2 linked regions of the Homo sapiens genome follow. The protein of the gene in region 1 purifies or fractionates together with the protein of each later gene. This does not show direct contact. Each region holds a gene or a part of one and is shown in the gene's direction. Other genes may lie near its edges.

Evidence for each region.
Region 2: the proteins of CCDC34 (region 1) and FAM76B purify together in Homo sapiens (affinity purification with mass spectrometry; one large-scale study listed by BioGRID and IntAct). This does not show direct contact.

The regions. Positions count from the first base shown.
Region 1 is NC_000011.10:27,349,484-27,353,309, reverse strand, and holds part of CCDC34 (coiled-coil domain-containing protein 34), read left to right. Parts: intron 1-2,870; coding exon 2,871-2,978; coding exon of another isoform or gene 2,979-3,062; exon of another isoform or gene 3,063-3,826. UniProt on the Homo sapiens protein: Involved in spermatogenesis. Has a probable role in anterograde intraflagellar transport which is essential for the formation of sperm flagella.
Region 2 is NC_000011.10:95,775,967-95,779,792, reverse strand, and holds part of FAM76B (protein FAM76B), read left to right. Parts: intron 1-105; coding exon 106-186; intron 187-657; coding exon of another isoform or gene 658-667; exon of another isoform or gene 668-715; intron 716-835; coding exon 836-971; intron 972-3,769; coding exon 3,770-3,826. UniProt on the Homo sapiens protein: Negatively regulates the NF-kappa-B-mediated inflammatory pathway by preventing the translocation of HNRNPA2B1 from the nucleus to the cytoplasm.

The DNA.
Region 1 (3,826 bases):
TCTTGCCTTTGGCCATTTTATTCATTAGCCCTTAATGAGCCCTTAACGAACGAATAGGGCAGGATATAGAGCTGTTGGTGAAACTCAAAACTGTCAGTTTTTCTGATTATTATTACCTTCAGTGGTAAAAAATTATTTGAAAGTAGGCAAAACCTATTAAAATAAAAATGCATGTTTAAGATCTTCTTTGGATTTTGGTTTTCCATAATCAAGTGTTGTATTCCACGGGAAAATATTAATAGCTATCTGTAATCCTGTTGAAATTCAGTGGTATACCAGAAGACCATGTAGGGGCCTTTCGAAGGAAGACTCCAGCTGTGTCCTGAAGGAGACTGGCCTTTGTGGTAAACATGGAGTCATTCAGGGTGGGAAATTCTAAGAAGGGCCAGACTTGGAAGGGAGGGTTGTGTCTCAAAATGTGATGTATATTCTGGTTTGACAAATTACTTGAACAGACATCCAAGATTAGAACACTGTTTGGGTTATTGGTAGCATTTTCTAGATACATTTTGACCCTTTTTCTTTAACCCTTCAATCAACATTAACTAAAATTTGTTAGCCATCAAATAGGAGTACAGGGTTTCTTTTTTTCTGATTTTTTAGTTTAGGTAAATGAAGAATCTTAAAAGGTACATAAATATATAGTCAATCATGTCTTTAGTTATACATTTAAATAATTACTTTTCTTGAAAATAAAATTTGGGACTATTTTGGAAAATTTTTGATATGTAGTTGTCAGGTCTATATCTAGCCAATTAATTAATGTCTTTCATATTTATATATTTGTATATATACACACATGCACATATAAACATACATATATACACATGTATTTGTATGTGTACATGTATATATATGTATAATTTTTCCCCCTTTTGTTTCCTAAGTCCAAACCCTCTTTTCCTTTTCCTTTTCCTTTTTTTTTTTGAGATGGAGTCTCACTTTGTCACCCAGGCTGGAGTACAGTGGTATGATTTCAGCTCACTGAAACCTCTGCCTCCCAGGTTCAGGCGAGTCTCCGGCCTCAGCCTCCCCAGTAGCTGGAATTACAGGCGCCTGCCACCACACCTGGCTAATTTTTGTATTTTTAGTAAAGACAGGGTTTTACGATTTTGCCCAGGCTGGTCTCGAACCCTTGACCTCAAGTGATCCATCCGCTTCAGCTTCCCAAAGTGCTGGGATTACAGGCATGAGCCACTGCGCCTGGCCCAGAGGCCCAGGCCTTCTTTTTCTTATAACTCATATACTATGGCACACTCTTCGTCAGTCTTCCTCAGAATAGTTCTCATCCCTTCAAATGCAGTCTTCAGCCTTTGTCATTAAGAGCTCTGAATTTTCCCTTTTGCCGGGTATTCTTGTTTCATATAGTTCACTTTACTTTGCCTGTCTCAAAAGACCTTCTCCATCTACCTAGTACCACGCTCAAATTTTCTACCCCCTCCCACCTCCCAATCTCTCTCCTTTCGAAGCCATCTTTTCACTGTTCCTTGTATGGTGCTCATTTCTGACTAGCCTGGTAGACTAGGCTAGGGGGAAGGAAAGATGTTTCTCCTCATCTTCCCTTCCCTTCTCTGAACTTTTATGATATGCAATAACTCGCAATGTAGCACTTATTTCTTTAGTGTATAGAAAATCAGATCAGAGACTTCTGGGATTTCATCTTTATATCAGATTTATATCAGTTATTGCTAGGTCCATAGTAGGTGTACCATAAAAGTATACTGAGTAAGTCATCAAAGAACAATAGCTGCTGAAGTGATGAAAAATCCTTAAAGATGGATATTTGCTTTTGGGGGTATAGTGTTTAAAAGTTGGAAGACTTCCTGAGTGAGGGCGGCTATCTTCTATGCAGCAGAATTTTAGGATGAGTGATTATGGAAGACAGATTTCCTGTGACCAGTTGTTTAAAATGCAAAAGAGATGTTCTTGGTGTCAAGTTTTATCTTCATTTAAGACACTGGAATTAGTCTGAGGGTTGGAAAATTGTCTTTCCCACTACCACCCATGCCCAAGTAGGTAGGTCTTTGGGAAAGAAAGGGCTATGGAGGAGTGTGGAGACCAACAGAAGATACGTAAGGTATCTGACTATTAGTATCTAAAGACGGAGAAGAAAAATAACCAGTAATTATGGTTGTGGAGTCCTAGTGAAGTCTAGTTTGAACAGCATTCTAAACCAATGCAGTAATTTAACTGATGAGTGACAGAGTGGTGGCATTCAACTTGTAGTTTTATTTGGCCATACCTTTCACATTCTTTTTCCTGAGGAAATGCCCAAACGTGTAGATTCGAGTGACAGCAAGGCAGTTAAATAATCTGGGATATGAATGTGATTTTGTTTTACACTTCAGCAGCTATAAAACCAGTGAAGAAAACTCTGGGTTCTTTTTTCCCTAAGGAAAATTGAATGGTTTCTTTGTATTTCTTTTGTGTAACTGAATTAAATTTTTAATATAGGGATTATTTAATTTCTATGCTTTATCTTCATCAGGAATCCAGAAGCTTCTTATAACTGTTTAAAAAAAAAAGTTGCAATTCTCTTGAGCTTCTGCCAGTAGCTTAGAGTGATGCCAAAATTTATGTGTGGGAAAGTTGATTTCAATGAGGGTAATTTAGCTGAAGTTTAGTCTAGGAAACTAGTGTTTTGCTGCCAAGCAATTATTTGCACATTTCTAAAAAATGACTTATACTTTTACCAATGCTTTTTTTCATCATAGACTGGTTACTTAAGTAAGTTATTGCCACTAGTGGCATATGCTCCATAAAGGAAACTATATTCTTGTTTAATTTGGTTAATAACCTCAGACTTTTAAAATGTATGTTATTTGGGTACTTCTATTAAATGTTGCCTTTTGTCTAAATAAAATCCACAGGAATTAAATCAACAACTAGAAAAAAGAAAAGAAATGGAAGAACGTGAAAAAAGAAAGATAATTGCTGAAGAAAAGCACAAGGAATGGGTTCAGAAAAAGAATGAGCAAGTAAGGAGGGGAAAATGGATACACACATTGACATCTCTTTTGCAAAATATTTCTTCCTATTATACTTCATTACCTAGGTTTTAAAAAATACTTCTCTTAGAGTCTTTCTTCTTTGGCTTGTTTTGTTTTTCTATCCTGGTGGACATTTATCAAGTCTCTATCTTCTGCCCTTTGCCCTCTACTTTTCTCCTTTTTCCCTCCTGTGGCTTGCACTAATATTTGCCTGCAGGCAGTCACCAAGTCTGTATTTCTAGGCCTGACCTTTTGGATCCTTATGGCAAGTGCCTCCAAGTCTGCAAATCTAAAACAACCCATTTTGCCCATTTCTCCTTCGTAAATCCATCCTCCCATTTCTCTGTTTCATTCAGCTGTCTTCTCGGTCATCAAGGCTTAATTAGAATTCTTCTGTTGTTCCTAATCATCTCCTCCTTTTCTTTACAATTACTACTCCCCTGTTTGTGATCTCTTTCCATTATATCTTTCAACTTGTTGTTTACTTCTTATACTGGATTGTAAGCTACATAAGGGCAGGGATTTTTGCCTCTTTTGTTCAGTTTTCCAGGAGCTAGATGAATACCTGCGCATGATATATGTCCAAAAATAGTTTAATTGAGTGAAGATGTTCATTGAATGGCTGCATTTTTTCCTTTTAATTTTAATATATTCTTCTATGGATCACACACATTCGAAATTTTAAAAATACTTATTCTGTGGTCAATTTGTCTTCTGTTGTGATTTTTACATATTTAGAGTGGTACTGCTTTTATTATTATAATCCAGTTTTACAAATGTGGAAAAATGTTTAAATTGTAGGACAATATTTTAAATTTTAATTCTAACTTTTTATC
Region 2 (3,826 bases), about 68 Mb from region 1:
CCAAAATCAGTATTTTCAGTAATATTTTAGGGGAAGATGAATAACTTATCATTTGGTTTCTCTGTCCTTTTTACTCTAACTATTCTTATTAATGTTTGGTTTCAGCCATAAATCCTCTGCAACAATTCAGAATGAAACTCCAAAGAAAAAGCCCAAATTGGAATCTAAGCCATCTAATGGAGATAGGTAAAAATGAATTCTTTTAGTGTTATGAAAATTCAACTTAGTTGAATAGTTATGGTTGAATGCCAGTTATTACTAGATAAAAAAATAGAAACATGTATTTTCTACATTGACTTGAGTCACCTAGAAGAATAAACATAAATTAGTTTAAAATTTTTAGCTTAATTTTGGCAATAAGAAAGTGGCACTGAACTATGTTGTTCTATTTGGGAAATAAATTTGGGTTTTGAAGAAACAAATTTGAATGGAGAACATTATTTTTATCTTTATTCTTCAGTGAAACACAAATCTAATTGTGATATTTTAAATTGACCTGCTTAGAAAATGTTTTTAGATTAAAAATATTATGAGCGTTACTTTGTTTTAGTTCATTAGCCAAAAGTTTGCTGATGTTACTGTACAAATTGGCTGCCTATTGCTTTACACTAGAAGTATTGACCCCCTTAAAGCTAATACTGAATTATATTTCTGCAGGTGTATGTAATGTGTGCCATTAGTAAGGTAATTTGCCAGTTGCATCCATTTCTGTCAGGTACATATTTTTTTGCATTAGCCTTAAGGATGTTTGTGGAATTGTCTAATTTATGCAATTTGAACACCTGCTAATTTTCCTTCTACTTCATTTAACTGTGTTTTACTTTTTTCTTTTTAGTAGCTCTATAAATCAGTCAGCAGATAGTGGGGGAACAGACAATTTTGTCCTTATAAGTCAATTGAAAGAAGAAGTGATGTCACTTAAGCGTCTCTTACAGCAGAGAGACCAGACCATTTTAGAAAAAGATAAAAAGGTAAGAACATGGTTCATTGAAGCCTGGTAAGAGTTATGTGTTGACTGTTGCTTGATAATCGCAAATTTTATTAGACTTCCTTTAATAATTTGGTAATGTTTGTTGTGCGTGATTTTTATAAGACAAATTACAAAAGCCCCTGAAGCCATCTAATGAAGATGGGTAAAAATGGTCTTTCAGATTTTTAGTTCTAAGAATTAACTGAGGCTTAATTAGGATAGTAATTTCCAAACTTTAATTTTCAGTAAGCATGTAATTTAAAAATAGATCTAATACCTAATTAAAAATGAGATGTAAATGGAATATTTCATAAACTTTTTTGATTTAAGAATGTAGTTTGAACAGTCTTTGATATAACATTCATATATTTGTATCAATCCAGTCATATATTTGTATCAATCCAGATCAAAATACTGCTGAAAAGTAATGGTATGGGAATTTCCTGTAGTAGTCAGTAATAGTAATTAGCAATAGATGTCTAAAAGCTCATTGTGTAGGAAGTAAGTGTACTTATTGGGACTTCATCAGTTAAATGAAGAGGAATATTAAAATGTGTTGTTCATTTAGTGAAAAGAGGAATATTAACAGAATTACAGAAGGATTTAAGGTCTTGTGCTATGAAATCAGGATGGCACAATAGTGGACAGGCATGGAACAGGAAACAGTTTTGAAGTAATTTAGCCATACTTAGATTCAAATCCTAGTTCTAACATTTTCTGTGTGACCTAAAGCAGAATGTGTGCTTCTTTGGACCTCAGTTTTCTCATTTAAATGAGAGCATTAATATTATCTGAAGTGATGGTTTTGATGATTAATGAAAATGCAAAGTATTTATTATAGCTCCTGGTATGTATAAGTGCCCATAGGGGCTATTACTGTTTGATCATCTTTTGTACTTGTTTTATGGTCCCAGACAATGTAGTTTGACCTGTATCAAATGTATTATGCAGTAGGAGAACACTAAAATCATTTCTTTTAAAAGAATAAGGCCTTAATATGAATACATATATGACTTATATCCATCTCTAAGTCTGTGCTGAGTTGGCTTTTACTTCTGGCATTCAGTAATTTTTGATACATTTTGCCACACCTTGATGGTTAGTGGGCTTAATTTATTTTAATACATTTGTAGCTTACTTTAAGCAAATTTAGTATATGAAAATTAGGAGTGACATATAAAATAGGATAGTTACGGGTGTCTTTGTCTTATGGTTCTTTTTGATTGACAGCATTTTTTAAATTAATGAGCCTTTATGGAAATTTGTCCTGTGTACAAAGTTTTAGAGACAGGCCAGATATATCTGCATTAGCCTTGAGAAAAGTTGAATAAAATGCCAACTTTACTGCAAAATAGCAATGATTTCAAAACCAAGTAGTAATCAGTTATAGAATATTGACTGCTAGATTTTTCTTTCCTCTCTAGCATAAGAGGTACTATCTTTGTATTGTGCAGTTAATTGAAGTTTTCTGCTTTTGTTAGTGTTCCTCTTTAAAAAAATCACAACACTAATGGGGATTGAAATTAGCATTGTTGTAAGGAAAATCCTAATGGTAAACCTAAAATAACTATACATTTGCAACTTTTTCTTATAAATCTAAGATGATGAAGTTATTTTACTGAATTGATTTCACAAAGTTATTTAATGATTTCTAGAGCCAGACACTGAACTAGATCATGAGGATACAAAGATGAATAAATAAGACATAATTCTTATTTTCCAGAAGTTCATAGTGAGGAGGCAACTCACAGTGTAGTGAATAGAGTAATTGTCTTAGCTGATCTGGTGTATGTTGGCATTTCAGAACAGAAAATCTTTTGTGATTAGAGAAAGTTAGAGAGAGAGAACTTAGTTATACTTTGAATTTGACAAAAGCAAGGGTTTTTTTTTTTAATAAGACTATAAGACTCCATGATTTTCTCTATTTTTGCTGTTGTATGTCTTTCAGTTTATTAGATACTGGGTAATTACAAAGGAGAATGTGTAAACCTTTAAAGCTGGCATAATGAAAAACATTAAAAAATAACCTGGAGTTCCCTCTGCATGGTTCTAATAGTGAAATTACATAATAACTTATTTAGTTTGAAGTCATGAGATATTATACTGTTAGGTATGTCATTTATGAAAAATTATCATGTAGCCTTCTTCCTCAAAGCACTGATTTTTTTCTTGTATTTGTCTAATTTAGCCCAAATTTTATAGTAACCTTCTTTCCTTTCTCATTCTGTGTTAGTTGTATTTCTGTGCTTTGTTCTCTATTTTTACCTCAAGTGTTAGGTGGTATTGTGTACATAATCCTGGACATAAATTAAAAAATGAAAACAGTGTAGCTTTTGGCTGAAAAGACCATTCCTTTTTATATTACCCAGTGTGAAATTTCTTTCTTTAAGCATTGAAAGATTATTTTACGCATAAGCTAGTTTAAATGTTTATATTGTTTTTACTATTATTGAAGTACATTTTTAAATGAGGCATTTTCCCAGTTATTAGCCGTTAAGCTTTTTTCGTTGGCATACCAGTTGCCAAACTCTATTTCCAGTCGAGCCATGTTTAGGAAAAAAAGAAAACTGAGAAGTTTTACTGATGGTCAGGTATTAACATTAAAATTATACTATTGTGAAGCAGATAGACTTCATCATTTCACCAAACAAACTTTAGATAGCTTGTACAATTCAGGAAACTGCAGTTAACATCTTCTACTTTTGTAATGAAATGTGAGTTTATTGTGAAAGTTATTTAAAATGGTGTGTGTGTGTATGTGTGCAAATATATACATATATTTTTTCTTTAATCTCTCAGTTAACTGAACTAAAGGCAGACTTTCAGTACCAAGAGTCAAATTTGAGAACAAAAATG